Regions from separate parts of the Homo sapiens genome. Here all the other regions are linked to region 1. Evidence: fine-mapped expression QTL. A gene starts in region 1. Each other region holds a variant in brackets. All regions are shown on one strand. Distances are between the middles of the regions. Region 1 holds the start of DERA (deoxyribose-phosphate aldolase). Region 2 overlaps DERA (deoxyribose-phosphate aldolase). Region 3 overlaps LOC102724146 (a long non-coding RNA gene). Region 4 overlaps LOC102724146 (a long non-coding RNA gene). Region 5 overlaps DERA (deoxyribose-phosphate aldolase).

Region 1 (6,539 bases):
TCAAGTGGAAGGTAACTGATTTTAGTTTAAGGACGAGTATGGAAATGATATAAGTGCCTTACGTTAGGTTTTAATGTTAACACGTGTGTCACTTTTTAATCTCTCCCAGTAATCCAATGAGATAGGTAATTGTCTCCGTTGCATATATGGAAAACCTGAATTTCAGAGAGGTTTAATGGTTTGTCTAATAAGTTTAGCTTCCAAGAGATAGTAGGGAATAGTGTGTAGTCTAAGGTTATATATTGTTATATGATTATATATTGCCAGGTTTTAAGCAATCGTCTAGCACTTACAGGCAAATCTCTCTTAGCCTCAGTTTATCTGTACAGGGAGAAAAGAGTTCTCACAGATTTTTTTCAGGAAAAATCTCATAAATATGAAATACCAAATACTTTATGGAAAGGACTTAATTCACAGGAAGCACTTAATATTAGCGAGTATTATATATTGTATCAGTGATTCCCAAGCTTTAGGATTCTGTGGCCAATAGACTTCAAAATGGGGGAGAGGAGATGGAATGGTCGGCTTCTAGCCAACTGAGGCTATTAAAAAAGAAAAAATAATTATCTAACGCCACGATCTTTATAAAACGACATTTTAAAATTCAAATTGGTAGTGAACAACGTAGTCTCAGAATGAAGGAGTGTTCTTTAAATTGAATAAATTTAGCTTCATAAAACACTCAGTATAATTCTTATTTTTTTTTTATTTTACCATGAACTAGGAATTGGATGTTCTATTAGTCTCCCTCCAGTTCTAAAATATTTTGACTCTAATATTCACAATTTTTCATAGTCCTCCCTGCTCCTACACTTTTCTCCATCTGACCTAGAAATGCTGGCTGACAGTTTGTAGTCTAAGTGGTTATTTACCTAATGAACTTGTGAATAATTGCTCTTAGAAATCATAGGAGTAGAGACTATATCAAATGAAATTTGACTGGATAAAACAGTAGGCAGTATAAGAAAAGTAGCAAAGACAGCAATATACACTCATTCATCTAACAAATATTTATAGTCTACTAATTGCCAACTACTGTACTAGATCCTACATATGATGAACCAAACACAAATGATCTATGCCCTTTGGACCTTAAAATTTGTTTTACTCCTATCTCCCAGGACTGGTAGGTTCTTAGAAGCTTCAAGATAAATATTACATATTCCTAGAGCTTTAATTTTAATTAAAGGAGGAGTGAGGGTGGGAGGATAATTAGGTAATTTATTTGGCAGTTTAAAATTTACATTGAAAAACATCAATGAATAGGAATAGCATGCAAAATTTACATGGCTTAAAAAATACAACATGTAATACTTTAAAAGCAATTTTACTCTTGTAAGAGTCAGTTTGGGCTATGGCTCCAGATTGGCATGCATAGTTTATTTTCCTCTGCTTCTCATTGGTGGTTCTTTACGTTTAGTTTGCATAAACATTGTTTGAAGAAATATTAAAATTACAGATTCCAGGGTCCTAGATACTCTGATTGAGTAGGGCTGTGAGGAAGCCCAGAACTGCTTTAGAAAAAGCTCTTGGGTGATTCCCATGTAGTGGTCTATAGCTCTTTCTTTGAGGGGACTTGCCTTAGGGATACTTCAGAAGTTTCATAAGGCAATAAATGTAAAAGGAATCTTCACAAAATGAAATATAGGAACATTTCTCTGTGAAAGAAACTCATTTTTTGCATACTATCCCTGCTGTCTCTCCTAATGTTGCCAAATTAACATACTTTTAAACTGCAGAGATTAATTTGAGATTAATACATTCAACAGGTCCATTTTAGAAAAAGTCCTTGAGAAATTCTTGACTGATACATTGCTAAAACATTGCTTTAAGAGGCTGCCCTAATTCTGATTTTTCAACTAATTTAGGATATCACAATTTAAAAACAAACAAACAAACATTTATGTAATGAATGGTATGGAATCTGGTTTGGAGTTGTGTTTACTTCTAAAAATAGAATTTCATGTATTGCCTTTGTATCTTCTAGAGATGTGAATGATCTCCAGCCAGAGACCACCAGTAACACACCTACAAGTGGACAAAGTTGTGTTTATTGACATTGTAACAAGGGAGAATGCTTGCCATGGGCACCTAATGTGAGGTGTCTCAGTAAGAGGATGTTAGAAACTACATAGGATTTGGGCCTGTCGTAGGTGATTTGGGGAAAGTTCAAGGAAGGATCTGGACTGGATGATGGTAGGAACTGGTGATAGTAGTGCATCTTAATTCTTATCTAAAACATAGGAATGGAGTGAAGCTAGAACTGATTGGTAAAGAAGTCATAATAGCTAGGATAGGGGCTATTTGAACAATATTCATGGTTTTCTATTATCAGACATGATTATGATTATGTTTTTGTTGATTCATTGTGGTCACAATGGCCTTGGCTGATGCTGTGCTGTGAAATTGTATACGTTTAACCAGGGAAAACCATGGTCCAGTTGTGAGTTTCAGGCCAGCTCCAGGCTTTCAGGGCCTGCTTTTCTCTTTTTCAAGGTTAATATAAAAAAGAAAAGTGCTATAGTATGTATGAGTAAGATCTACACACATCCGAAACATTCAACAGTGGCTGTGTGTGGACAAGGCTGAAAGCTCAATGTAGAGGAGTATACAAATATTACTATTCCTATTTAAAACAGCTCAGTAATTACTGTGTGAACTTGACAATAACATTAACAGCTTCCATTTTTTAAGTATCTACTGTATGCCATGTTATGTACTAGGTGCCTTGCATACATTCAACAGCTTTGCAAGGTGAACATATTTTGATCATCTCCACTTTACAGGTAAGTAGACAGACTATTATTTCCAGAACTGCCAAGTTACATTTATTAAATGGAAGAGCTGGTATATTAATGGGTTCAGCTCATTTTGAGCTCACTGTATTTCCCCTATACCAGGATGCCTTTCTATTCAGAACTTTGATGTCTAAAGTTACAGCAATGGAGATAAAATACATTATTGGCAGGATTGTTCAGAGACTCAAATGCTATCATACATCTATATATGATGTATGAAAGCACCTAGCACAATAACTGGCTCATGGTAGACAAATCATAACTAACTGTACTGTTTTCATAGCAGAGGTGCCTCTAAACGTGAGTACAGATAAGTTAACTATATTGAGATTGTGGAGTGACTCGACGATTTTAACCTCTTGGTCACAGAGAAATCAGGCTGAAGCATTTTACCTTTATAGAATCATAGTATTTTGAAGAACCAAGAAATTGTCAAGGTCTTCTTTTACAGATGAGAAAAATGAAGCTCGGAAAAGCAGTTAATTTGCCCAGGGTCACACATTTAATTATTGCCCGAGCTTGGCTAAGAAACCAGGTCTTCTGACTCCTAAGCCCTTGCCTTCTTCAGGCCACATAGCTGCTTCTTTTCATGATGTGTAGATTAGAAAAGTCAGTGTGCCCCGGGGCCCTTGATTGCACCTTGGTTTCCCTAACAAGGATATGGGATCCCTGCTGACATTTCAGACCTTAAGTTGCAGAGCTCTGCACTTGGATCTTCTTCCTTCTTGTTATATAATCTTACAGTTAAAAGTTTCTAGGAATATTTTTATTACGTGCAATTGGCAACTTCAGTATTTTTTAAAGGGTGTTGGTAGCATTATTTCCGGGAGCTACTTAGCGCTCCGGTTCGGTACCTCGTGGAGAAGACGGGGGAGGGGAGCAGCGAGATTTCCTTGCGGAGCAATATTCCTAGGGTACAGACCTCGTAGCCCGGGCCCGCGACTCCGCCCCGGGAGCGGGCAGGGGCGGGGCGAGCGCTCCAGCTGGCGGGAAGGAGGAAGGGCCGGGCGCGGCGCAGAGGCGGGCGCCTACCAGCCGGCAGCTCCGGAGCTGCCCGCGCCATGTCCGCGCACAATCGGGGCACCGAGCTCGGTAAGGGGCCCGCGGGGCTCCCCATCCCCTCTCCCTCGCGTTCAGCGCCGCCGGGACTAGCGCGGGGCCTGCTGCCGCCCAGTGCCCTGGCTGTGGGTCCCCGAGGGGTTTTCGCTGGGGCGGGAAGCAGTGGCGTCTGGTCAGCCCTCACCCCAAGTAAAGGCCGAACCCGGCACGTTCGCGCCGCTTGTCTTTGCACCTAAGCTTTTACTCTTGTATGCGGAAGGAGTAGGAAAGGGTTAGATTATTATCTTCCTGCCTTTTCGTTCACTCTAGCTCGCTGGTTGGAAAACCCAACAACCCAAAAAACAAAACCCAAAACAAACAACCCCCAAGCAGGTAAAAACAGATAAAAACCTTCTTTCTCCTCCTTTTAATAGAATACTTGTGTAATTTAATGCAGTATTTCCGTAGATAATTTTAACCGTAACCTTGAAGTGGCCGTGCTCGTGGAAAAGTTGTCAGCCGTCTGTGCTCAAAATGTAACACTGCAGATTCATGGGATTTTAGAGTTACAAAGATTTGTTAAAGTACCTGTATTATTTCCCAGTTTTCATCTTTTTTTATATTGTTCAAATACTGGCAAGAAACCTTAGTTCAGATTTCTTTTTTTTTTTTTTTTATTGATCATTCTTGGGTGTTTCTCGCAGAGGGGGATTTGGCAGGGTCATAGGACAGTAGTGGAGGGAAGGTCAGCTGATAAACAAGTGAACAAAGGTCTCTGGTTTTCCTAGGCAGAGGACCCTGCGGCCTTCCGCAGTGTTTGTGTCCCTGGGTACTTAAGATTAGGGAGTGGTGATGACTCTTAACGAGCATGCTGCCTTCAAGCATCTGTTTAACAAAGCACATCTTGCACCGCCCTTAATCCATTTAACCCTGAGTGGACACAGCACATGTTTCAGAGAGCACAGGGTTGGGGATAAGGTCACAGATCAACAGGATCCCAAGGCAGAAGAGAATTTTTCTTCAGATTTCTTAACATGTGAAAAATTTATAATTCAAACAGCAAAACCATGATCAAGAGAAGGTTTAAGCGTCTCGTTTAAGTATTATAGCTTGGATATCTGTGTATCCAGGATCTTTAACTTCTTACCTGTGTGACTTCGGACAAATTAATAACTTTGCGCTTAAGTTTCTTCATCTGTAAAATGGTTATTTTAGTGGTAGTTACCTTATAAGGCCGTTAGGAGATTAAATAGGATACATGTAAAGTAGTTTGGTATATTGTGGACACCTAGTAAGTCTTCAGTATAGATAGTATTAGTATATGGAGTTATGGTTTTAGGGGCTAATTTTGAGAAAATTGGCTGTAAATTATATGTAACACATACAGGTAGGTCCTTTTCGCCCTCCTTAAAAGTGACTGGTACTTAAACAGTCTGCACTTCCAAGAGGTGTTCTGGATTTTTTGTCGAATGGTAAGAGAGTAAATCTATCATTTTAAAGACAGTTGATTTACTAACCTGGTTGATTTTGTTTTAGTCACTGTCCTCTAGCTGATTATGTTTTAAACTCTAGTCCTATCTCTGGAACGTGGTCTTTAGTAATAACGGCATTATTTCTTAGATTGGAATATCCTTGAAGGTGGTGGATATGGGGCAGGTTTGGGGTGGTGTCTTACCTGGGTATTCCCAGGAATATGACCATGTGACTATGCATACATCAAGGATGTGCCCTAAATTTCCCAAAACTTAGACATTTTAAATTTTTCTTTCAAAAAACATAATTGAACCATTTTTAAATTTATTTATTTGCAGTAATTAGAATCAATCACTTCCATTCATTTGTTGAAAAGTAATAGACATAAATAATTGCCAGGTAGAACAATAGTAAATGTGGTTTTTATGCAGCTATCGAAATGATCATAGCTTTGTATTTATTATCTTATTTGTTAAAATCAGATTTTTTTCCTTCACGGGTATTAATCCTTAATCCAAACAGGTTTAAACTGAAATGCTAAAATAAGTTATTTGAATTAGGTACTAGGGAAAAAAATCTTTCAGTATTAATTTATGCAGTATATTAACTGATGATTTTTAAAATAGTTTTCTAATTGAAAGTCTTTTTAATAAACATCGTAACTAATTTCTAAAATAAATTAACATTTTTGCTTCCCTTTTCTTATTACAAAAGGAATTCATGGTTATTGTAAAAATTCTAGAAAATACAGTTAGCACAAAAATGTTGTAATATTATTACTAGTCCAATCACTGTTATTTATGATTTGGTGTATGTACTTCTAGTTCATGGACTTAAAAAAACATTGAGTTCCTTTGAGACTAAACCTGACCCTCATGATTAAAAAGTCTTTAAGGAAAACATTGGCATTTGGATGTATGAAAGATGTTTTCCAAATAGGGAATGTACCCTCTAGCTTTCATATTAGAGGATGGGGCCCAGCATTCTGAGTTTTAACAAATCCTGTGGGTAGTACTGAAGCATACCCAAGTTTGAGAACCAATGGCTTAATGATCTCCAAGGTACTATCAAGTTTTGTACCTAGACTATTATGCCCTATATAGTCTATTAAAATGTACAGATATTCTTCTATTTTATTAGATGCCACTTAACTATTGCCTAAAATGCAGGTGTCACGTGGGTAGTGATCTTTCTTTTGTTCACTGATGTGTCCCAAGTACCTAGAATAGT
Region 2 (6,539 bases), 47 kb after region 1:
AAAAGCCCTTTCTAGTCTGAAGCAGTGGAGAAAGACATTGCCCAGAATTAAATCCTTTCTGGTCTTTGGGAACCACTCGACTTATTTATCGTATGCCACCCGTGCGTCAGGTCCTTCGCTTGGAGTTTTAAAAAATCTTTTGGGGACATAAACATTTGGACACATCAGTGGCATTCTGAGTGAAGGGGATGTACTAAAGGTGGAATGCAGAGTTTCATGGAAGCACGAAGAAGCAAAGGGATGTCTCAACCTGTGAGGTTCAGGGAAGGCTCCCAGAGAAGGTGACATTTGAATCGACTCTTAAAGGATGAGCAGCAGTTCACTGTTCGCAAAGCAGGGAGGGCATTCTTGGTAGAAGGAGCTTGCAGCATGCACAGATCCAGAGACAGCCTGGCATAATGTGTCAGGGAACTGCCAGTAGTTTAGGAAGGCTGCACCACAGAGGCAGAGGAGCAGTGAGGGAGGAGCTGGGGCTTGAGAATGAGGAAGGAGCCAGATGGTGAAGGAAGAGGCTTGTGTTTGCCTGAGACCCCTCTCCAACAGTGGTGCCAGTGTTTCCAGTGGCGACAGTAGTGGTAGTGGTGCGTTGGGAGTAGAGAATGGGAAGGACTTCAGGGGTGTCCTGTGACCGATAAAGGACAGCCTGTCAAAGCCTTGCCCCACTGAGTAATAGGCCTACCTCTTTTTGATCACGGTCAACAATTAGTTGGCAGTGAGTCTTGGAGTTCACATACTCTTCACTCATTTTTCTATATCTGCTTGAAACAGTCTTTACCATGAACCAAATCAGCATTATCAATCATCTGAGGAGAAAAAAAAAAAGCCTCTTAGGGCTGGGTGCAGTGGCTCATGCCTGTAATCCCAGCACTTTAGGAGGGCGAGGCAGGTAGATCACTTGAGGTCGGGAGTTCGATACCAGCCTGGCCAACATGGTGAAACCCTGTCTCTATTAAAAATACAAAAATTAGCCTGGCGTGGTGGCGCACGCCTGTAGCCCTGGCTCCTTGGGAGGCTGAGGCATGAGTTCGTTTGAACCCGGGAGGTGGAGGTTGCAGTGAGCCAAGATCGTACCACTGCATTCCAGCCTGGGCGACAGAGAGACTGTGTCTGAAAAAAAAAAAAAAGAGGCTCCCCTGCGTTTGAGTAGGGGGTGTTTCTTACAGGTCTTAGATAAATTGGGACGAAGTCTAGAGTGTCTGGTCTGATTTTCTCGGGCTCTGCTAGAACAAAAACAGCCCTTGAGTGGGAAAGCAGAGGCAGATTTCATCGGCCTGACCCCAGACTCCCATTTTCTCTGTGAAGTTGGCTCAGCAAACAAGCAAGAAAACATACAATATCTTTGAGGAGCAGGAGCAGATGGATTGAAATGTTAAAAATCTGGTTTGTTAAATGATTTCAGCTAACAAAATAATTAGAGAGAAAAAGAAGCACCCAAACTCTCTTCCTTCTTCAGTGAAATTTAAATAAGATCATTATTAATCACTCAGAGTCCACCTTGCAATCTCTATACCTTTAATACTGATACTTTTAAGAAGAATGAAATGAAAATGAGTGAGAGAAAGAATGTCATCTGTAAACATTAGTTTAGATGCAAATACTTCAATTTGTATTGTTACATGATACAGTATGTGATTAGCAGTTTTCCTCATTGCATTATAAAGAGTTTTGTAATTAGTGCATTTTTTCTAATGGATAACTTTTTTTCCACAGTACTCTTTTAAGGCTCTTTTAAAAACATGGAATTGCTGGAGAGATATAGAAGTGAGGTTAGTTATAGAAGGTAAATAATGTTCATGTCCGATTTACCGTGAGGCCACCTATGTTTATAGGATATTGGTGGATGAAGTTGAAATATGTGTACCAAACACTGTTGGATGTTAGACACCCAAAGATGAGTAACATCATGGCTGACAATGTACTAAGTACAACGAATGGTTTCACCAGGAATCCTTGATGAATTGATTACAAGTTCTGTGGTAGAGATCTATCCAAATGTTAGCTCTGTCTGGGGAGCTGACAGTGTTTTCACAACAGCTAATATTTAGACTAGGTCTGAAGGTAGAAATTACAGTTAACTGGAAGAGAAGAGAGAGTAGATCAAGGTAGGAGAGAGCATTTCAGAACAAAAGCAACAGAGATAGCTCCTGAAACTTTAAATAATTTGTTTTTTCTTTTTTTCTAACTTCTGTTATATCAGTCAATGTTGTTATTTCTAATACATTTTGAAAAATTTTTCTTTGAAGAAAGAATGGGCTGTATCCTGTCAGCATGCAGTAGGTATTAATCTTGCCAGTAAGCGGGTAGTGAGCACAGATTCTGTAAGCCCCACCATTAGTTCACTTAAGATTTGTTAATCATTTGCTCTCCTGGGCTGGACACTCACCAGTAAGTCTTTGCTCTCAGAGGTGAGGTACGTGGCATGGGTAACACACATTTCCCACGTCGTTAGACATGTCTGTGTGATGAATCAATACAGGTTCTTCCAGTTCCAAATGTATAGGCTGGTACAGAAGCAATTGTGGTTTTTGCCTTTGAAAGTAATGGAGTGATTT[T/G]GCATGAAGTATGCCTTTTGTTGACTGGTCTTCCATCAATAAGGTTGTTTATTTATAGTTGTACAAAAAAGAAATATAAGCTTTAAAAAAAGGTTGATGTCAAATGATAAATGTATCCTTTCAAGGACCATGTAAAAATAGGTGACTATATTTAATGAAACTTTAGGTTTCAGAAAGTGTTTTTCTGTCTGTTTTAGACCTTAGCTGGATCTCCAAAATACAAGTGAATCACCCGGCAGTTCTGAGGCGTGCGGAACAAATCCAGGCTCGCAGAACCGTGAAAAAGGAGTGGCAGGTAAGGGTTCTTCTTGAGCATTCTGTGCCTGTATTTTACAATGCATGGTCTCTTCCCTCAAGGCCACAATATTGAATTTCACTCAAGATGCATCTAAACTTAAAAGATTGCAGCTGTCCATGACTTATTTTAATAATTCATATATGATGATGATGGGTTGGAGAAAGATAACACATTTATCCAAACAAGTTAAAATCTTATCACTCTTGAGTGGCAAAACCGCAAATGAATTTGAGGCATCTTTATTCATGAGTGAATTAAATGGCATATTTTCTCAACACATTTATTCAGTTTTTTAGACATGCCTTCTTTGGTTGTCTTCTGTTTTAATTTTAAAGCCCTAACATCTAAACTTGATGTGTCCACTGTTGAGGCCCTTAGGTATAAGAGTTGACCTTTCTTGACCATCATATTTACCTTACTATTACTTTCTATAAATCATTTTTCAAAATTCCAAAAATGATGTTTCGTAGAGTACTTGCGGTCAGCATTTTCTTCAGTGTATCCCAACCAAAGACGTGCTGTGTAGGATTAAAGGGAATTCAGAGTTCATTTCACAAGTGAGACAGAATACTGTGATTGAATCCTTGAGAGTGATAGTTCACGTTTTGCTCATCCTTAGAAATATTCTGGTTGAAAAGGTAAAATAAAATTCATCAGACTGAGTTGTGAAATATGAATATTGTTTTAAAAATGGAATTGGATTAAATTGAAAAAACACCAAAAAACTTGGAAACTTTTAAAAATGATAATCTCATCCCAGATCCCAGAGCGGGAGGTAAAATGTAAGGTAGAAACCTTCTTTCGGAGTTCTTCTTTGTCAGGGTGGCTCTGATGGGCTCTCCCTTTGGCTGAGATGGAGTAGTCAGAAGTGGGGAGACATGGGCTAATAGGGGTTTCAATTTGGGATATCTGTGGGAGAAAAAAAATGTTTAAGCCTACTCTTCCTCCCTTTTATTTTGGGCAGTGTTCACCTTGTTAGTGGCTCTTGAGCTGTGTTTATATCATGTATCAGGATATTCCATTGAACAGTGTAGGCATAAGATATTAACACCCATACTTGTCTAATGATTCTCTACTAACCACCTGGGTTGGAGGTTGGTTGGTTTGTTTATTTATTAAATTTACTTTGTTTTCACTTTTGTTTAAACCAGGCTGCTTGGCTCCTGAAAGCTGTTACCTTTATAGATCTTACTACACTTTCAGGTGATGATACATCTTCCAACATTCAAAGGCTCTGTTATAAAGCCAAATACCCAATCCGGGAAGATCTCTTAAAAGCTTTAAATATGCATGATAAAGGTAATGTTGTTGTGTGTGATCTATGTGGTGTTTAGTGCTTACAATACTGATTACTAAATCAAAGACGACTTAAGATACAGCTGCTAATGATAGCGGTGATAGAATCCATGATAGAAACTCTTGCTGTGTATACATAGACAGATTCTTCTCTGAAAAACAGCAGGAAGAGAATCTGAGTCTTTTTTTTTTTTTTTTTTTGAGGTCAGTTCTTTCCATCAATGGATTAAAATGCTTGGTAGAGAGTGACTTTATTTCTTTTCAGTTCTTCAGTTTTGGAAAATTTCTGTTTAGTGACACTGAAATACTCTTTCTGATTCCCTAGCCATACGTGAAAAAGCCAGTCTCATTACTTAATAATCACATCTCATACATAAAGTATTTTCTGTGAGTATATGAAATACTTTTGAAAATAAAGTGCAAATGAGAAATATAGCCTGCTTATATATTAGGTTAGATCTTTCAAAAAAAGTCATATTCACTGCCTTAGTATACATGAAAAGAAGGACTTTTCTAGAGTTGCCATAAGTTTAGAACCTTAGCATTTTGGAGATGTTGGACACCTGTAAGAATTGATTCCCTTGTTTTCTAAATAAAGAAACAAAGACCTGGAAGGCTAAGCGGCATTCCCAAGGCTACACGTCTTGTTACTTGCTGGGCTGGTTTTGGGAGCCAGGTCTCCTTCCCATGGAGTATGCTTCATGGCCCCCGAGTGCCTATCTGCTGTGAGTGCAACTGGAGACGTTGAATTGGCCCAATGCAGGTCTTTTATCCCAAATAAACACGTTTAGGTTTGTAGGTAACATACAAACCTAAACAACTCTACGGCTTTTGAAAAGTATTTATTATGTTTATTTCGTGTTGGCCATAAAAATATCACCTTATTTATTGCACTTAAAGGTAACAACTTGATGTAAGGTCTTATGATATTGCTTTGTTTTATAGTGACTATTTGAATTCTAAATTTTTTAAAATTTATGAACTTATTTCTTAAAATCAGGGCTTCCGTTTCAGATTTTATTATTTCTTGCAAAAGAGGGAATAGGATTAGTTAAATGTCATTTTTGTGGTACCACCCTCTAAATTGTACTTATATTTGTCTTCATCTGTCCTTCTTCAAACTGTCCTTTCTTCAGGTATGTCCTATGTGAATGCTCTGTAAATATGGATTTTGTTATCTACATGAAATATTTGCATTTAGTAATGATCACCAAATTTACTATTTAGACATTTTTAAAAAACAGTACTATGTTAATCTCAAAGATGAGTATATCAAACTTGTTTTTATGACTTTAACGATAAGAAAATAATCCATATTGTCAAGAACTAGAAGGGAATGTGGAAAATAAAAATCTTTTAATTTATTGCAGTATTGTGGGGGAATTATTTTTTTCTCATTTGATTTTTGCCAGTGTTGCGATATAAATAATAATTAAAAGCATGTTGTATGAGTTGAACTTCATTGAAAGTTGGCTATTCCTATTTTTTCTTGATAGGCATTACTACAGCCGCCGTTTGTGTTTATCCCGCCCGGGTGTGTGATGCTGTAAAAGCACTCAAGGCTGCAGGCTGTAATATCCCTGTGGCATCAGGTAAAATGTGTTGTGGCTTTTGTTGTTATTTTTTAAACATGTTTCCAGTTCTTCATACAATGGGGTATTATATGTAGGTTTGTACTATGATTTAAATTAGTTTATGTATTTAATTAGTTGTATTTATTCATGATTTTAGTATGTACTAATTGCTTAGTAAGTGGAAGACATTTATTCCCAACAATATAGAACTGTATTCCTATCCTTAAAGAAACTCAGTTTAGGAGGAATAGTCAGGTAAAGAAAAAAGTCATAAGGCATGACATATAGTATATATATATATACACACACACACACACACATATACATACTATATATGTATATGTATATATACATATTAACTATATATATAACTATATACATACTAACACACACATGTATGCATGTTCTGTTATACATATATATGTAAAATATAATAATAATGATATGCGGGCTGGGGACGGTGGCTCACAACTATAATCCCAGCACTTTGGGAGGCCGAAGCAGGTGGATCACTTGAGGTCAGGAGTACGAGACCAGCCTGGCCAACATGGCAAAACCCCATCTCTACTAAAAATACAAAAATTAGCCAGGCATGGTGGCAGGTGCCTGTAATCCCAGCTGCTGGGAGGCTGAGGCTGGAGAATCGTTTGAACCTGGGAGGCAGAGGTTGCAGTGAGCTGAGATCATGCCCCTGCACTCCAGCTTGGGTGATAGACCAAGACTCCGTCTCAAAAAAAAAAAAAAAAAAAAAAAAAAACAACGATATGTGCAAAATGTGTAGTTGCGGTTCTGAGCAGGGAATGATATATTCTGCAGAGG
Region 3 (6,539 bases), 80 kb before region 1:
TAACCCTCAGCTTTTGTAATGCCTGTTGGGATATTTCATCTGAATAGAACACCACAAATTAAAACACGACATTTCTCAGATGATTTGCGCCCCCTATCAGCTTCCCCTCTTCAGCTTCTTTATTTCTGTCATGTGTACCCTTGTCTTTACAGTTTCTCAATTATAAAAGCTTGATGTTATCTTTTATTTATTTTACCTCTGTATACTCTATCTACGGTAGGCAGAATAATGGCTTCCTCCCTTTCCCCCAAAGATGTCCATGTCCTAATTTCTGAAACCTATGAGTATGCTATGTTATATCCAAGGGGGTATTATGGTTGCTAATAAACTGACCTTAAGGTTAAAAATGTATCCTAGATTGTACGGGAGGGTCCAATGTAATCACCAGGATCCTTTAAGCATGAAGGATGGAGATGGAAGAGTCAGGGTCAGGGTGATGCAGCCTCAGAAAGACTCAGCAGGAAATATCTGGCTCTGAAGGTGATAGAGATTCAGGAGTCAAGGAATGCAGGCAACCTCTAGAACCTGGAAAAGGCAAGAAAACAGATCTCCTACAGCCCCCGGCAGGAAGGCAGCCCCATTGAAACCTTGATTTTAGCCCAGTGGAACCAATTTCAGGCCTCTGACCTTTCAGGATGGTAAGATAATAAACTTATGCTGCTCTAACCCATCTAGTTTGTGGTAATTTAGGAGAGCAGCAATAGGAAACGAATACACAATTCAATTACTAATCATATCTTCATTGATTCTTTTTTTGTTTGTTTGTTTTTTTGAGACAGGGTCTTGCTCTATCACCCAGGCTGGAGTGCAGTGGTGCCATCTTGGCTCACTGTAGCCTTGACCTCCTGGATTCAAGCAATCCTCCCACCTCAGCCTCCCGAGTAGCTGGGACCACAGGCACCAGCCACCACACCCACCTAAATTTTTTGGATTTTTTAGTAGAGACAGGGTTTCTCCATGTTGCCCGGGCTGGTCTTGAACTCCTGAGCTCAAGCCACCTACCCATTTCAGCCTCCCAAAGTGCTGGGATTACAGGCGTAAGCCATCATGCCTGGCCAATTGATTCTTATGTTCTACTTCCTCTCAAATGGCTTTACAATCTGGATAAAATGGCAGGCCCCACTTCTGCCTTCATTTGTTAGCTCCTGGATGTTGCCATAGATTCCTAACAATGATATAGGGCAGTGGTTTCCAACCTTTTTGGCACCAGGGATGGGTTTCATTGAAGACAATTTTTTTTACAGACCCAGGGGGTGGGGGATAGTTTTGCAATGATTTAAGCACATTACATTTATTGTGTGCTTTATTTATATTATTAATACATTGTAATATATAATGACATAATTATACAACTCACCATAAGGCACAATCAGTTGGAGCCCTGGACTTGTTTTCCTGCAACTAGACAGTCCCATTTGGGGGTGATGGGAGACAGTGACAGATCATCAGGCATTCGATTCTCATAAGAAGCTTGCATCCTAGATCCTAGATCCCTCCCATGCAGAATTCACAATAGAATTCGCACTCCAATGGGAATCTAATGCTAGGGCTCATCTGACAGGAGGTGGAGCTCAGGTGGTAATGGGAGGTATGGGGAGCAGCTGTAAAAACAAATGAAGCTTCACTCACTCACTCACTGCTCACCTCCTGCTGTGTGGCCCAGTTCCTACCAGACCACAGACCGGTACCAATCTGTGGCCTAGGGCTTGGGGACCCCTGATATAGGGGATCTTGTCCTAAACTGTGAGTCAGGTCTAGTCTATTTCTGCTGTTAATTAGCTTATGACCTTAGGCAACCTCTCTGCTAAATTTCCTTGCTCTCCACCCCAATACACACACACACACACACACACACGTGTGCACACACACACAAACACACATACACACCAGACACCAGAAATTGAGTAAGTTGACTAAGATGATTATTACATTTCTTTCTAGTTCTTGTTAGTACCATTTTGCAGTCTGTTTCTTGCTTCCTCACATCTTCTATACATCAATCCAGAATTATTCTTAAAACCTGTTTGGTATAAATTAAATTCTTATGTAGAAGCATGCATTGACTTTTCACTGCTTAGGGATTAAATAAGGCCCTATTAGAGACCTTTAACCACCTGCCCACTGCCCCATCTCTCTGCCACAGTTTTTCTTTTCCAGAGTTCACTACTCACTGCAGCAAAACAGGTCTCATTCATTCCTGAGACATGATCTGTTCAGGCTCTTCCTCCTTCCTGAAATACCCATCGCATTTATATCTAGTTATCAGAGTCCTGCTCTTTCTGTAAAAGGCCCAGCAACTACCACTCCCCTGGGACTGTTCCTCCCCCACAATTGCTGCCTACACTGTGTTTCTCAAACCAAATTATCATGAGAACTTATAAATGATCTAAGTTTTCCAACTCAACACTGAAGATTGAGGATTGTAGAGAGACGATAGAAGAGGGATAAAAGAAAAGAGAAACTAGTTCAAAAGAGTAAGGCTTTGCCTTTCAAGTCTCCGGAAGGAGTGGGGGAACAAATGTGTTTGGAACTGATCTAATATGACTTGCATTATTATTTCTTTGCCAGTATGTCTTGTCTCCCAAGGTATAACTCCTTAGTGACAGAGTCATTTCTAATATTTCTTTTTATCCTTGTCATTTTTTAAAAAAAGATGTCTTACCAACAAAAACTACTTACTTGTTTGCTCAGTGTTGTAATACAAAAATGATAATGACATTAATACACCAAATCCAGTTTTAGCTTCCACAATTCATGAGGATAAAAAATACATAATGAGCTCATCAACCAAGTATTTGTTAAATTCCTGCTTGTGTATAGTACATGTTAGCAAAATAATCCCCAGTACTGGACGGTGTGGACTCTCAATCCCCCTCATTCCTTGGCCTCTGAATCCCACGTTTTCAGCATGACTTTTTGGTAGGTGCCAAATATAACTCATAGTTCTCTAACCCCTCTTGAATTTCTCTGGTTTCTAGGAGGGAGTTCTCCTACCAGTGGTCCAAAGCCTACTTCATTGCAAGCTGTGTAGTCACAGCCATATTGCCAGGGCAGTCAGCTTCATCCAGTGGAGCAACATGGAGGCCTCGAATGAATACAAGATGTGGCTCATTGTCCAAAAA[C/T]AAGGGCAATTTCTTAAGAAACTGGGCATCTTTATGAGAAATTTTTAGATTTCCTCAATTTAGTTAACCCATAATAGTACTTAGTCAGATTCTTTGCTTGAAACTTTCTGTCCAAACCATCTATTCAGCCAATATTTGCAGGTCTGACTAGAGCATTATCTTCATGGGGGCTCTCTCCAACTTTGCCATTTTATTCTAAAACCAGAAGGACTTCTGTATGATCGATTTACACTGCTATACTCCATGATGCTAATAGCTGAGTGGTCATGACGAAGGTGAGCTCTTGGCTCAAGTCTGGGGTGATAAGTTTAATCCAATGTGAACCTGAGTACTTGGTCTGAAATCCCAGACACTGTGTCAGCACATATCCGTCCTTGAGAATCTAACACAATACTATTTAAAAATTGTTTCATATAGCTAAGTATTTCACTTTTTCCTATTTGTTCTCTTTCTAGTCAGCTCTCTTCCAGGTTTTTTGTTTCTTTTGTTTCCCACACTTAAGTTCATTTCTACACACATATTGTACCAACTGTCAGTAGCATACAAATGCCTCCTTCTTTGGCTTGTCAGTGACATAAATTTTCTCTAATATAACCTGACAAGGGCGTTGTAGTAGAAATGTCATTTATTTCTCTCATTTAGTCATAGATTTTAAGTCTCTTTCAAAGACTCTGTATCTTTCTCATAGAAATTCCTTTGCCTATACAATATTTTTCTTTCCCACACAGAACATATATTTATATGTGACATAATGAAGCTGGCAAGGAAATGACTGTTTCAGCTTTTTAAAACCACAATAGTAGCTTGGAGCTAATATACAATGGGCTAGTTAGTTCCATCATACATACATACAGGTACATGTATTACACTACCATCTTTAAACCATGAATCATATACATTCTCATTCATATACACAGCCATGCATATAAATTAACTGTTGCTGCACAGCCACAATCTCTCACATTTCCATTTTCTTCCAATCTTTCTCCGTCTCTTCTACTTCTTAACTATGTTCATCATAACCAGGACTATGACATACTGGGTAAACTGGCTATCATGCCCAATATATCTGGAAAAACATTTAGACACACTGCTTTGCAGAATGAACACAGCTGGAATCCAGAGAACGGTGCAAATTTTTTTAAAAAAATTTCTATATTATATCATCTTACTTGAGGCTATAGAATAAGCCTTACATGGTCACCTTCAAGTCTTCTCTCTTCTAAGAATCCTCAATTCTTTTATTTTCTATCTTTCAGCAGTTGGTGCTAAAAATGGTGGGTTGCCACCACCCCATAACATGCTAGCTCTCTCTTGGGAGAGCACAGGTGAATTGAGGGCTCTTTACAATCCTTCACGGACATAGGCTTGGGCAGCTCAGAATCTTCAGAGTCAAGCAACTGTAAGACAAACGAACCTTTTTCTTTCTAATATTGGTCACCACTCATAGCAAAATTTCAATGCACGATCATGCTTTAAAGAACTAGACCTGATGATAGCAAGAAATTCTTTTCCCTTACACCTTAACTATTGCATTCACCCTCCTTTCCACTCCCTGCCCCACCCTCCTGGGACTATTGACTGGTGTTAATAATCCCAGAAGATTGTCTCCCTCATAGAAAGACTAACGCATACTTAACTTCATAGAAAGACAAGTAAAGTGATGTCCTTGGAATTTCTGCTTGAATTTGGTGCCCTGGACCCTCTTATTGAGAGATGAGATTCCAGGGTGAGAGTAACAGGCCAACTAGTCAAGAAAGAAAGCTATTTGTTTTTCTTTTGAACTATGAAAAGTCCCTGTTTGTGAGTGTATTTTAGAAAGAAGAAAGGAAGGATATGTCTGGAACTTTGTCCTGTTTTCTGCAACAAAATGTGAATGAATAGTTCAAAGAGTGAAAACTTTTAGTAATGCTTGATGATGTCTCTCAGGGATAAGCTGGATCCCCAATGTTTTGAAGATGCTTTGAGTCCAAAAATTGATAATCAGAAAACTACTTTGTGTTTGTTTAATGTATCCCTGTTCTGATTTCAATTAAACTCCACATTTTGTTTTACAACAATAGATGAAGAAGACAGTCCTCTTCTGCCACACACATGTAACATCTAGCTGGACACAGCAGACACAGATGCCCAGAATCTTGAAGCCTAGCTCAGGGTGACCCAGGTTGTATCATGGCCTACAAAACTGTGACTGGCCTGAGTCTTCAGGTCTACATGGGGCACTTGCTCTATGCAATTGCTTTGGGCAAGAGTAACTGACTATGCAGAAAGGATGGTCAGGATTTAAGGAAATTGCCTGGGAATGTCTTGAGAAACTCAGTCCAGCCTTTGTGACGGCAATATAGCTCCTGGGATGTAGGCAAAATCTGACTAATGCATGAGACTTAACAAGGAAGATGTAAATAGCAATGGAAGATGGAGAAACAGTGAGTATAAAACTAAAATTGGGGAAAAGGCCAATGCAAGCTTCGAGGTCACGCTGCCATAGTTGAGAAGGAGTAAAACAGCCCAGGATGAAATCCTTTAATCAGGAAGAATCCTTCTAATTTCAAAATGTAAGCTCTTTAAGTGCAAGAAACTAAGGCTTTTGTTAGGAAAGGCAACGTGCTAACAGGCCCTAAGAGTCCCTGTCCAGTATTGCTGGATATACCAAGAATTCACGGCTCTCACTGGTCTTCACCTGGGCCTTTCTTCAGGATTATGTTTGTAGCAAGCAACAGCCTTGGAGGGATAAGGTAGTATCTTCTCCTAGACAAAGAACAGACTTGTTACCCTGCACTCAAAGTTCTCTAAGCACAGTGTTCCTCTCTCTAATGAGTGTGTAGGCATCTGTACAGGCCCCCCTATGTCATCCCCATGAAATTTGGGGGTCGTGGAAAATTGATACAAGAAAATGTGAAGATCATGCTGCCTGTTACATCATAAGTAATAGAGTCCTTTATCTCCGATTCAAGAGTCTAATACCTTTTCCCAGTGTCCATGATACAGTAACAGGCTAGCCTATTAGCTTGAAAGTAGAGTAAAATCCCAGACTGTCTATAGTTCCTGACAGCTATATCCCCAGCACCTAGAAAAGTAAAATCACATAGCATCCTATTTATTGGTGGTTAAAAGTTTGTGCTAGGTGTTCGCTTTTCAAATTTAATTAAATCAAATTAACGGGATTTCCATTAAGAAATGTTTCTAATAATTTCTGAATATTTGTCAAATCATATATTAAACAGTTACCAAAAAATATTTGGGAAAGAGCATCAGCATTTTAATTGCATTACACATCATGTTTTTAATTCATTTGTTTAATTCTAAAGATAGCCATTTTATGAAGATAATAAATACCAATAATAAGGAAATTTTAAAAAATCTTTCATTATTAATTTTTCAGTGTACCCAGACCAGAATCAAGATTGAGAAGCCTTG
Region 4 (6,539 bases), 44 kb before region 1:
CCCACCATCCTGACTGAACCCCTACAACAAATGACAAAATACCAACAGCTAATAAACATGAAAATGTTCAACACCATTAATAACTACAAATGCAAATAAAATTTGAATAATGACATATTTCCCACTGACAGATTGGTAAAGTTTACACACAATACTGGCAAAGGTGTGCATAGACATAAATTAGGATGGCAACTTGACCGTATCTACTACATTTTAAAAAAAATATTAAGTGGTCATTTGCTCTGAGTCAACAATGATAGAGTTTGCAAAGTACTAGGAGTTTGGTGCAGCTCGATGGAGGAGAAACTGTCGAAAATGAAAGCGTTAGCTACTTGTGCCAAAGATTAAAAAGAGGAAGGTGGACCATAAGAGATGGGCAATGTGGTTTTAAAACAGTGAGTTGTGTGGGGAGGGAAGGATAAAAAGGGAAACCACAGCTACTTGGGAGGCTGAGGCAAGAGGCTCATTTGAGTCCAGGAGTTTGGGGCAAACATGGGCAATGTAGCGAGACCTCATCTCTAAAAAGGGAAACAAAAGAGGACAGAGTTCCTGATGCTTACTTAACGGCATCTGAATGAACTGATAAGCAACAGTAGGGAAGAAGTAAAGGACTGTTTTATACAATCCTATAGATTCCACATGTATTAAAAAAACTTATTTTGCTATAATTTGAAATTATAGGAAAGTTGCAAGAATAGAACAAAGAACATTCACATATTCATTTTCCAATTTTTAAAATTTTTCACATTTGCTTTATTATTTATCACCTATCTTTGTATAGATGTATATATACACATATAAAAACATAATTCATTTTTCCTGAACCATTTTGGATTAGGCTTCATGCATCATGCTTTTATATCTCCTTATACTATGTATTTTTCTTAAGTACAAAAACATTCTCCTCATGATTATAATCTAGTTATCAAATTCAGGAAACATAATACTAATACAATACTTTAATCTAAAATCCATATTCTAATTTTGTCAATGTCCCAATAATGTCCTGTATAGCATTTTTCCCTCCAGCACAGGATCTAGTCTAGGATCATATATTTCATTTAATTGCCATGCCTTTGTATTCTTCTTCATTCAGAAACAGTTTTCTAGACTTTAAAAGAATCTTTCATGATATTGCCATTTTTGAAGAATACTGGTCAGTTTAGAAAATGTTTTTCAGGCCAGACGCAGTGGCTCACGCCTGTAATCACAGCACTTTGGGAGGCCAAAGTGGACAGATTGCTTGAGCCAGGAATTCAAGACCAGCCTAGGCAACATGGTGAAAATCCCCGTCTCTACAAAAAATACAAAAATTAGCCAGGCATGGTGGTGCACATCTGTAGTTCCAGCTACTTGGGAGGCTGAGATGGGAGGATCGCTCGAGCCCAGGAGACAGAGGTTGTAGTAAGCCGTGATTGCACCACTACACTTCAGCCTGGGCAACAAAGCAAGACCCTGTCTCAAAAAAAAAAAAAAGAAAGAAAGAAACTGTTTTTCAGTTTTGGTTTGCCTGATGATTCCTTGTAATCAGATTTTAGTTATGCAGCCCTGGTCAGATACTTTGTAAGTGATATTGTATCCTTCTCAAAGTATTTGGAAGCATGCAAAGTCTATCCCTCATGGGTGATGTCAATTTTGATCCTGTTGTCAAGCACTGTGAAAGGTCTGAGATTTTACCCTACTTGCAAGCTAACAAACCTAACCTGCCACATTTCACTGATGCTGGTGAAAGATGCTGGTCTGACTTCTTGAGTCAGACACAAAGGATATTATTATTCATGGTGCTGCTGGAAGCATGAGAAGCAGCATATTTACATCTATTCTCAATGTCCCCAAGTTCCACAGGGATAATACAAATAGGTTCTGATGAGTAGCCACATATGCAGTGGGTTGCATTACAGAAGAAAGACCTTGAGCTTAGGGAACTCAAATGTTTTATAATGAACAATAAACATTATTTTGTTTTCCTATGGAGGGAGAAGCTGTCTATCTTCTAAAGCTGTTTGCAATAAAAACATTATTTAAAAGGGAATCCAGAACCAAATGCAGCATGTTTCTGCTCATGAGATTTGCAGAAATAGTGGGGATCCATGGAAAATTTTCTGCCAACACCTGGTCAAGATGTTGTATATTTTCTCCCCTGTATAGTAATTATTTACTCTTATCATACTTATCATCCCTCTAGATTAGGCATCTATTGATGACCTTCACCCAAAGTCCTTTTTACAGTGATAGTTGCTATATTGTTTTAGTCTTGTTATTATACTCCAGATGGATTCTGTACTTCTGTTGTAATTGTTTGGTGGATATTGTATTCTTTCTTATCTGGGAAGCAGTAACACTGCTTTTGAGGAGAGGAGAGAAAGTAATACTCCAAAATAAAAAAAGAAATGAATTAAGCCATTCCTAAGGGACTGAGAAAATCAAATAATCATGGGGAATAAAATGCATACGTCATTTTTAATTTAAAGGTCTTAAACTCAGAATTTAAAAACTGTTCAATAAAATTTTAATTTTTTAATCTTAAACCTATATTGGTTTCCAATTGGTTTCATTTCTTTTGAAGATGAATGCCTGTAACTAAAACTACCACCCCATTTAGAAAAACAATTATTATTCTTTGTTTTTCTTCCCCCTCACTTCTTTCTATGCTGAGCTTTTAATAACGCTTAACTTACATGCATTGCTTAAAGAACTCCAGGAACGGGCCTTGAAAAACTAAGCATGAAATCAAGGTTGTGGAATGTTTCACCCCAGGAAGTATTTCATCTGTGTGTAGTTCATCTATATTCTTGTTGCAATCAACCAGACACCAGCTAGACCACCAGCTGGCCCACTGCTCAAGATAGTCATCAAGACCAGACATACTACCCCTCACATAGTAAACTCTTGTGCATAGTCCATATCCCTGCTTCCCATAAAAACTCTCTAACTAGCCTGAGAAACTTGAGATGATCTTTGTGACATGAGTCCACCATCTCCTCAGGTTGTCGGCTCCTGAATAAACCTGCTTTTTCTCCCAACAACTCTTATCTCTCAAGTTTGGCTTTTGAGCTGTGAGCGGGTAAACCTGAGTTTTGTTACGTGCCTATGTTTAACGTTTTAAGTTATTATCAACAGGGATTATTAATGCTATTACATAGTTTTGCTTAGTATTTGGAATCCCACAGAATACACCTAATATGCCAATGAAAAATAAAATGCCAATGGTGTCTTTGTTATCAGTGAGAAATTAATCAGGAAAAAATTTGAAAAGAGACATAATTGTTACGATCAAGTATTTAAAATGCAACTATATAATATTATTTTTGTAGCTTAGATAATGAAAGTGATTTGTCCTTCCTCTACTAATAATTTTCAAAATATTTGTTTTGTTTTTATTACTATTATTAAGGAGTTATTTTGAATATGTGAATAATACCTGTTGAGAATACTGATCTACAAAATGTTATAGAAGAATAAACGGGAGGAGTACACACTACCCGATATTATGACATACTAGAGAGCTACAATAATCAAAACAGTGTGATATTGGTGGAGAGATAAACACTTACATCAGTGGAACCAGACAGAGAGTTTAGAAACAGACCCACACAAATATGCCCAATTGATTTTTTTTAATTTTAATTTTAATTTTTAGATGGAGTCTCGCTCTGTCTCCCAGGCTGGAGTGCAGTGGCACAATCCTGGCTCACTGCAACCTCTG[C/T]CTCCCTGGTTCAAGTGATTCTCCTGCCTCAGCCTCCCAAGTAACTGGGACTACAGGCGCCTGCCACCACGCCTGGCTAATTTTTTGTATTTTTAGTAGAGACGGGGTTTCACCATGTTAGCCAGGATGGTCTCGATCTCCTGACTTCGTGATCCACCCGCCCTGGCCTCCCAAAGTGCTGGGATTACAGGCATGAGCCATTGCGCCCAGCCCCAATTGATTCTTTTTTTTAAAGATACAATAGCAATTTAATGAAAGGAGGATTGTTTTTTTCAATAAACGATGCTGCAGCAATTGGACATCCACAGGCAAAAAATGAACATGGAACAAACCTCACACATTATACATATGTTAACTCAAAATGAATCATGGCCTTAGATGTAAAACAAAAAACCATAACACTGTCAGGGAAAAAAACATGATACAGGGTAAGGTAGAGTTCGTAGACCTGACACCAAAAGCACAATTCATAGCAGGGAAAATGGACAAATGGCATTTCATCAATTTCTTTTTTCTCTGTGAAACACTGCTAAGAGGAAGAGAAGACAAGCTACATCCTAGGAGAAAATATTTGCAAATCACATATCTGACAAGGGACTTGTATCTAGAATATATGACAAACTCTCAAAATTCAACAGTAGAAAACCAAATAATTAGGAAAAGAGCAAAAGGAATGAACAGCGATTTCCCTCAAAAGGTTATTCAAATGGCAAATAAGCAAACAAAAAGATGTTCAGTATGAGTAACCATTAGGGAAATTCAATTAAAAACCACAGTGAGATATCACTGTATACCAATCAAAATGGCTAAAATAGTGACATCGCCAAATGCTGGTGAGGATGCAGAGAAAGTGGATTGTTTATACATTGCTGGTGGGAATATAAAATGGTGCAACCACTCTGGAAAAAGTTTGGTGGTTTCTTTTAAAAAACAAACATCTGGCCGGGTGTGGTGGCTCAAACCTGTAATCGCAGCACTTTGGGATGGCTTGAGGTCAGGAGTTCAAGACCAGCCTGACCAACATGGTGAAATCCTGTCTCTACTAAAAATACAAAAAATTAGCCAGGCATGGTGGCAGGGTCCTGTAGTCCCAGCTGCTCCGGAGGCTGAGACACAAGAATCACTTGAACCAAGGAAACGGAGGTTGCAGTGAGCCAAGATTGGGCCACTGTACTACAGTCTGGGCGATGGAACAAATAAACAATTAAAAAATTAAAAAAATAAAAAAATAAAAATTAAAAAAACATACAAGTACCACATGACATAGCCATTGCATTCTTGGCATTTATCAGGGGAAATGAAAATTTATGTTCACACAGAAACCTGTATTTGAATGTTCATAGCTGTTCCATTCATAACAACAACAACAACAAAAAACTGGAAACAACCCAGATGTCCTTCAATGTATGAATGATTAAACATACAAATAGGCGAAGGGTTAAACACTTGTTATTTTTTGTTTTTTTGATAGTAGTCATCAAATGAGTATGAGCTGGTATCTCACTGTAATTTTGACTTGATTTGCATTTCCCAAATGATTAGTAACATTGAGCACCTTTCTTTTTCCTTTTTTTTTTTTGAGACTGAGTCTCACTCTGTCACCAGGCTGGAGTGCACTGGGACGATCAGAGCTCACTATGGCCTCCAACTCCTGGACTTAAAATCCTTATGCCTCAGCCGCCTGAGTAGCTGGGACTACACCACGCCCGGCTAATAATTTTACATTTTTAGAGATGAGTTCTCACTGTGTTGCCCAGGCTGGTCTTGAATTCCTGGTCTCAAATGATCCACCTGCCTTGGCCTCACAAAGTGCTAGGATTACAGGTGTGAGCCACTGCACTCGGCCCTCATATTCTTGGTCATTTTTGTATCTTCTTGGGAGAAACATCTATTCAATACTTTTGCCTGTTTTTTAAATCTGGTTGTTTGGTTTCTTTTGTTGAGTTCTATATATATTCTTTTAGGAGTTCTCTGTATATTCAGGACAGCAATCTTTTATCATATAAATGATTTGCAAGTATTTTCTCCTGTTCTGTGGGTTGCCTTTTTACTCCGTTGATAATGTTTTTTCATGCGTAAATTTCTAAAATTTGCATGAAGCCCAATTTATCTGTTTTTTTTTTTTTTCTTTTGTTGTCTGTGTCTCTGGTGTTATATCCAGCATGTGGCTATCCAGCTTCCCCAGGTTCATTTGTTGAGGAGCCTGTCCTTTCACCCATTGAATTCTCTTGGTCCCTTTGTCAAAAATCATTGGACTATAGATGCAAGAGTTTGCTTCTGGCTCTGTATTCTATTGTACTGGTCTATATTTTAGTTGAGTATGATGTTTACTGTGGTTTTTTCCATATATGGTTTTTATTGCATTGAGATAGTTTCCTTCTATTCTTAGTTTATTGAGTTTTTTTTCATCATGAAAGTGTTTTGAGTTTTGTCAAATGCTTTTTGCATCAGTTGAGATAATCACGTGGTAATTTTCCTTTGTTCTGTTAATGTAGTGTATTACATTATTCATGGTGTGTATACTGAACCATCCTTATAAGCCAGGAATAAATTCCATTTAAAATGGAGCTTAATTCTTTAATAAGCTACTGGATTTGGTTTGCTAGTATTTTGTTGAGAATTTTTCCATCAGTGACCACAAGGAATATTGGTCTATAGTTTTATTTTCTTTTGGTGTCTCTTACTTTGGTATTAGGATGATTTTGGCCTCACAGAACGAGTTAGGAATTCTTTCTTCTCTTCAATTTTTTTGGAAAACTTTGAGAAGAATTGGGATTAGTGCTTCATAAAATGTTTGGTAGAATTCACCAGTGAAGTCAGCAGGCCCAGGGCT
Region 5 (6,539 bases), 40 kb after region 1:
TGTGTGGGAGTCTGAGTCTCTTTGTAGGTCTCTAAGGACTTGCTTTATGAATCTGGGTGCTCCTGTGTTGGGTGCATATATATTTAGGGTAGTTAGCTCTTCTTGTTGAATTGATCTCTTTACCATTATCTAATGGCCTTCTTTGTCTCTTTTCATATTTGTTGGTTTAAGGTCTGTTTTGTCAGCGAATAGGATTGCAACCCCTGCCTTTTTATTGTTTTCCATTTGCTTGGTAGATCTTCCTCCATCCCTTTATTTTCATCCTATGTGTGTCTCTGCATGTGAGATGGGTCTCCTGAATACAGCACATTGATGGGTCTTGACTCTTTATCCAATTTGCCAGTCTGTGTCTTTTAATTGGACCATTTAGCCCATTTACATTTAAGGTTAATATTGTTCTGTGTGAATTTGATCCCGTCATTATGATGTTAGCTGGTTATTTTGCTTGTTAGTTGATGCAGTTTCTTCCTAGCATTGACGGTCTTTACAATTTGGCATGTTTTTTCAGTGGCTGGTACCGGTTGTTCCTTTCCACATTTAGTGCTTCCTTCAGGAGCTCTTTTAGGGCAGGCCTGGTGGTGAGAAAATCTCTCAGCATTTGCTTGTCAAGAATTTTATTTCTCCTTCACTGGAAGCTTAGTTTGGCTGGTTATGAAATTCTGGGTTGAAAATTCTTTTCTTTAAGAATGTTGAATATTGGCCCCCATTCTCTTCAGGCTTGTAGAGTTTCTGCTGAGAGATCAACTGTTTGTCTGATGGGCTTCCCTTTATGGGTAACCCAACCTTTCTCTCTGGCTGCCTTTAACATTTTTTCCTTCATTTCAACTTTGGTGAATCTGACAGTTAGGTGTCTTGGAGTTGCTCTTCTCGAGGAGTATCTTTGTGGCGTTCTCTGTATTTCCTGAATTTGAATGTTGGCCTGCCTTGCTAGGTTGGGGAAGTTCTCCTGGATAATATCCTGCAGAGTGTTTTCCAACTTGGTTCCATTCTCCCCATCACTTTCAGGTACACCAATCAGGTGTAGATTTGGTCTTTTCACATAGTCCCATATTTCTTGGAGGCTTTGTTTGTTTCTTTTTACTCTTTTTTCTCTAAACTTCTCACTTCATTTCATACATTTGATCTTGAATCATTGATACCCTTTCTTCCAGTTGATCGAATCAGCTACTGAAGCTTGTGTATTCATCATGTAGCTCTCGTGCCATGGTTTTCAGCTCCATCAGGTCATTTAAGGACTTCTCTACACTGGTTATTCTAGTTAGCAATTCGTCTAATCTTTTTTTTGAAGGTTTTTATCTTCTTTGCGACTGGTCGAACTTCCTCTTTTAGCTCGGAGTAGTTTGATCATCTGAAGCTATCTTCTCTCAACTCGTCAAAGTCATTCTCTGTCCAGCTTTGTTCTGTTGCTGGCGAGAAGCTGCGTTCCTTTGGACGGGGAGAGGCACTCTGATTTTTAGAATTTTCAGCTTTTCTGCTCTGTTTTTCCCCCATCTTTGTGGTTTCATCTACCTTTGGTCTTTGATGATGGTGACGTACAGATGGGGTTTTGGTGTGGATGTCCTTTCTGTTTGTTAGTTTTCCTTCTAACAGTCAGGACCCTCAGCTGCAGGTCTGTTGGAGTTTGCTGGAGGTCCACTCCAGACCCTGTTTGCCTTGGTGTCAGCAGCAGAGGCTGCAGAACGGCGAATATTGCTGAACAGCAAATGTTGCTGTCTGATCGTTCCTCTGGGAGCTTCGTCTCAGAGGGGTAACCGGCCGTGTGGGGTGTCAGTCTGCTCCTACTGGGGGGTGCCTCCCAGTTAGGCTACTCAGGGGTCAGAGACCCACTTGAGGAGGCAGTCTGTCCATTCTCAGATCTCAAACTCCATGCTGGGAGAACCACTACTCTCTTCAAAGCTGTCAGATAGGGACGTTTAAGTCTGCAGAGGTTTCTGCTGCCTTTTGTTTGGCTATGCCCTGCCCCTGGAAGTGGAGTCTACAGAGGCAGGCAGGCCTCCTGGAGCGGTGGTGGGCTACACCCAGTTCGAGCTTCCCAGCAGCTCTGTTTACCTATTCAGGCCTCAGCAATGGCAGGCACCCCTCCCCCAGCCTCACTGCCACCTTGTAGTTTGATCTCAGACTGCTGTGCTAGCAATGAGCAAGGCTCCGTGGGCGTGGGACCCTCTGAGCCGGGCGTGGGATATAATCTCCTGGTGTGCCGTTTGCTAAGACGATTCGAAAAGCACAGTGTTAGGGTGGGAGTGACCCGATTTTCCAGGTGCCATCTGTCACAGCTTCCCTTGGCTAGGGAGGGGAATTCCCTGACCCCTTGTGCTTCCTGGGTGAGGTGATGCCTCGCCCTGCTTCGGCTCACGCTCAGTGGGCTGCACCCACTGTCCTGCACCCACTGTCCGACAAGCCCCAGTGAGATGAACCCGGTACCTCAGTTGGAAATGCAGAAATCACCCGTCTTCTGCGTTGCTCATGCTGGGAGCTGTAGACTGGAGCTGTTCCTATTCTACCATCTTGGAACCACCTACCTGTTTCTTCTTTTTTAAAAATGCCGGTTGCCACTGACAAAACTGATTTCATGACTTATCTGTGAGTTATTACCCTCATTTTGGAAAATATGTTACTATATGATCTGGGCCTTGTCACCCTCTCTTCCATTTCCCGTACCTGGCCTTGCCTACTTTCCCCTGATTACACTGTGTCCCTGCTTTGCCTTAGATATGACTGTTCACTCTTGCCTTCTCCTCTTTCTGTTACCAGAAAGGGGTCCTGATACAGACCCCAAGAGAGGGTTCTTGGATCTTGCACAAGAAAGAATTTAGGGCGAGTCCAGAGTAAAGTGAAAGCAAGTTTATTAAAAAAGTAAGGGAATAAAAGAATGGTTGCTCCATAGACAGAGCAGCCCTGAGGGCTTCTGGTTGCCTATTTTTAATGGTTATTTCCTGATTATATGCTAAACAAAGGGTGGATTATTTGTGCCTCCCCTTTTTAGACCATATAGGGTAACTTCCTGATGTTGCCATGGCATTTGTAAACTGTCATGGCACTTGTGGGAGTGTGGCAGTGAGGAGGACCAGAGGTCACTCTCATAGCCATTTTGGTTTTGGTGGGTTTTAGCTGGCTTCTTTACTGCAACCTGTTTTATCAGCAAGGTCTTTATGACCTGTATTTTGTGTTGACCTCCAGTCTCATCCTGTGACTTAGAATGCCTTAACCATCTGGGAATGCAGCCCAGTAAGTTTCAGCCTCATTTTACCCAGCCCCTGTGCAAGATGGAATTGCTCTGGTTCAAATGCCTCTGACATTTCTGCCTAGAACACTGTTTCCCTATATGATGGCCTCATTGCTTATTTCACGTGGGGTCCTGCTCAAATGTTTTATTATCAGATTTTCCTGGCTCATGCCCATCCTACATTCTCCATTTTCTTACCCTATATAACTTTTCATTGTAGCTCAGATGTATAATATAGTTAATAGATATTTATGTGTTTATCTCTTATTAGGAAAGGCCTATGAGAATAAGGATTTTGTTTTTTCAGCACTGCTCACTCTCTAGAGCCTCCAGTGGTGTCTGGCACCATTTTGGATAGCCCTTTGATATTAGTTGAATGAATGAATGGTATTCATAGACAGACTTGCATTTATCAAACTCTCCAGGAGGTTTTCTGTCCCTTGTCTGTCTTGTATCTTGTGTAAGTCTTGACTTTGGGTAGAGATCCCTGCAGATTCTGTAAACAAGGCTGGAGCCATTTGATCTAGGAATTCTGGGTCCTGTGTACCTTGAGCATGGACTAGAGGGGAATGTTGGCCCAGGGACAGTCTGTGCCCTTGGCCCCACAGACCCCTGCCCATGGGTAGGAGCACAGCTATGGGTGGGCCAGAGCAGGCTCTAAGTAGAGTGTGGGCCCATCTCATCCCTTTGTAATGTTGGCATCATGTAGGAGCAATATAATTATCAGTTTCTACCTGGGGGCCTGTGGTGAAGATTTTGGTGATCTTTTCTATGGGAACAGAAACAGGGCATTCTGACATCATCA[T/G]TTCTGCCTGACATTGTGTAGCTGTATCAGGCTGGCTTTCTGGAATAGCTCAGTGGCCAAAGATTGATCACGAAGGGTTTAGAGCTGTGAAAATGCCCCAGGTAGGTGTTGTATAATGCTGGTGCCTGGACCACAGACAGCTGCCTTACTGGTTTACCTACTGTAGTCTGCCTTTCATTCTACCTGTCCTTCACACTGCTGCCTGGCAGTTCCTCTTAATTCAAGAGTCAAGTATTATTATGTGTTATATTTCCTGCTCAATAAGATAATGCATGCTCTTTGTAAGAATGTTTAAATATTAGGGGAATATATAACGTGAGAAAGTAGGAATATAATCTTACCTCTGAAGAAAAACACTTCTATCAATTTGGCATATAGTTTATTTTCTTTGCACATACACCAACAGATACATGTTTTGTGTTCTTTTTGTTTTTATTAACAGTTTTATTTTAAAAAGCACACTGCTGTGCATATTTCTTATTTTTACTGAGTAATGTATCATAATCAGTTTTCTACAACAGTACTTACTGATGTACCTCGTTCTTTTTTTTTTTCTTTTTTTTGAGACGGAGTCTTGCTCTGTTGCCCAGGCTAGAGTACAGTGGCGCAATCTCAGCTCACTGCAACCTCCGCCTCCCAGGTTCAAGCGATTCTTCTGCCTCAGTCCCCTGACTACTGAGACTACAGGCTTGCACCACCATGCCCAGCTAATTTTTGTGCTTTTAGTGGAGACAGGGTTTCACCATATTGACCAGGCTGGTCTCGAACTCCTGACCTCGTGATCCGCCTGCCTCGGCCTCCCAAAGTGCTGGGATTACAGGCGTGAGCCACTGCACCTGGCCTGTACTTCATTCTTTTTAATGGCTGAATTGTATTCTGTTTTTTGGATTTGCTATATATTATTGAACTGGACATGGATCTTGGTGTCATTTCCAACAGTGCTGCCACACATACGTTTTCATGTTTGCATTTGCAAACTTATGTACGTATTTCCATGGGACATATTCTGTGTACTGATTACTTTTTTAAAATACTCCTTTAATTCTGTTACAGCCCTGTTTGGAGATCTTCTCTGACTTCTGGTCACCTGTATCATAAAGTCTAGACTAGAGCCTAGAGCCAATAGAAACATAATGTGAGACATGGAGTCATTTTAAATTTTCAAGTGTACACATTATAAAAAAAATAAAAAGGAACAGGTGAAAATATTTTAATAGCATTTTACTTAGCCAAGTGTACCCCAAATATTATAATTTCATTGTGAAATCAATGTTAAAACGTAATTAGATATTTTACACCCTTCTTTTTGTACTGAATCTTTGAAATCTATGTATTTTACACTTAAAGCACATTTCGATTTGGACTATCCACATTTCAAGGGCTCAGGTAGGCACAAGTGTGTGGCTCCTGATTGGACAGCGCATGTCTACACTCAGCCTGGTGCTTACAGCACTTTACAAGTAAGCCATAGTCAGTCAAACAAGCCACATTCAGTCACATTTAGCCAACCTGCTTTTGCTTCTGACAGCCCCACAAACTTGCAGTGCTTCCGGTTTATTTTTCCTGCATCCTGCCCAGTTTTTTGGGCAGGGTTTCTCAGCTTTGGCACTGTTGAAGTTTGGGACCACATAATTCTAAGTTGTGGGTGCCTTGTAGGATACTGAGCAGTATCCTTGGCCTCTACCCACTAGATACAAGTGGCACCTTCTCCTCTAGAATCCCCCTACCCCATCTGTGGTGACCAAAAATGTCTCTAGACTGAGAAACAATGCTTTACGGTGAATCAGAAATCTCCACTTATCCATTAGGGTTGTTTTAGCCAACTGGATAAGCCTACTGTGACCTACCCTTCCTCTGAACTTGACTTTTTATCCAGCCAGTGTGGTAAGTTTTTATTTTTGTGTATGAGGAACAAAGTTAAAATCAAAATAGAAAAAGCGCCTCCTTTTGTAGGGTTATCATTTGGTGTTACATGCTTTAGGAATACTGTGAAAAATACAGGAACTTCTGCAGAAACACAAATGAAAATGATGGAAAGTCTAGAAAGTAAAGTTGCAGGGAAAATGACCTCCATCTCCACTACGACTTGAACCAGAAATAATAATAATAATAAATTGTGAGAAGAGTATTTGAGGACAAATTTATAACCAACACAAGGGCCTAAAAACCACCAAAATGACATATTAAGGTAAATAGTGGGACTTTTTTCATTGGAGAATTTTAAGAGAAGATATCATTGCCTTCCAATTATGGTTTCATATCTGTTCTCCCCAAAGGCATGTGTACTTAAAACCCCTCTTGGCCCCATAAGAAGATTCTTTGGTCCTGATGAGATTATGTGCATTAGAATCACTTCTCCTGGAAAGGAGACGCTAAAGGGTACTTGAATAAAATATTAAAAATTATGGAGGACATAACAAAGGCCAATCAGTCCTTTCTTTTCCCCAGACCCCATAATAGGAGAACATGGGTTATTTGATGAAATTAAAGAGTAGCAAATTAAGTGCTAAT

Evidence for each region. PIP is the estimated chance that this variant, and not a neighbour inherited with it, causes the effect.
Region 2: its variant is fine-mapped to the expression of DERA in sun-exposed skin (GTEx, PIP above 0.99). The same link has a PIP of 0.9 or more in esophagus mucosa.
Region 3: its variant is fine-mapped to the expression of DERA in whole blood (TOPMed, PIP above 0.99).
Region 4: its variant is fine-mapped to the expression of DERA in breast (GTEx, PIP 0.98).
Region 5: its variant is fine-mapped to the expression of DERA in testis (GTEx, PIP 0.97).

What each region holds. Positions count from the first base shown.
Region 1 is chr12:15,907,525-15,914,063 of GRCh38, forward strand. DERA (deoxyribose-phosphate aldolase) reads left to right here and starts at 3,808. Exons shown (of 9, transcript NM_015954.4): 1 at 3,808-3,890. The coding sequence starts at 3,860. RefSeq lists enhancers at 3,498-4,242, 4,243-4,986 and silencers at 3,666-3,725, 3,746-4,095.
Region 2 is chr12:15,954,187-15,960,725 of GRCh38, forward strand. It overlaps DERA (deoxyribose-phosphate aldolase), which reads left to right. Exons shown (of 9, transcript NM_015954.4): 2 at 2,750-2,847; 3 at 4,002-4,149; 4 at 5,643-5,738. Among named protein-coding and RNA genes, the nearest start is that of DERA, 46 kb to the left of the region's middle. The variant T/G (reference allele first, on the strand shown) is at 2,553.
Region 3 is chr12:15,827,848-15,834,386 of GRCh38, forward strand. LOC102724146 (a long non-coding RNA gene) reads right to left here. Exons shown (of 6, transcript XR_007063230.1): 5 at 334-525. Among named protein-coding and RNA genes, the nearest start is that of EPS8, 42 kb to the left of the region's middle. The variant C/T (reference allele first, on the strand shown) is at 3,123.
Region 4 is chr12:15,863,786-15,870,324 of GRCh38, forward strand. All of the region lies in intron 2 of LOC102724146 (a long non-coding RNA gene), which reads right to left. Among named protein-coding and RNA genes, the nearest start is that of STRAP, 15 kb to the right of the region's middle. The variant C/T (reference allele first, on the strand shown) is at 3,707.
Region 5 is chr12:15,947,329-15,953,867 of GRCh38, forward strand. All of the region lies in intron 1 of DERA (deoxyribose-phosphate aldolase), which reads left to right. Among named protein-coding and RNA genes, the nearest start is that of DERA, 39 kb to the left of the region's middle. RefSeq lists a silencer at 1,254-1,454. The variant T/G (reference allele first, on the strand shown) is at 4,029.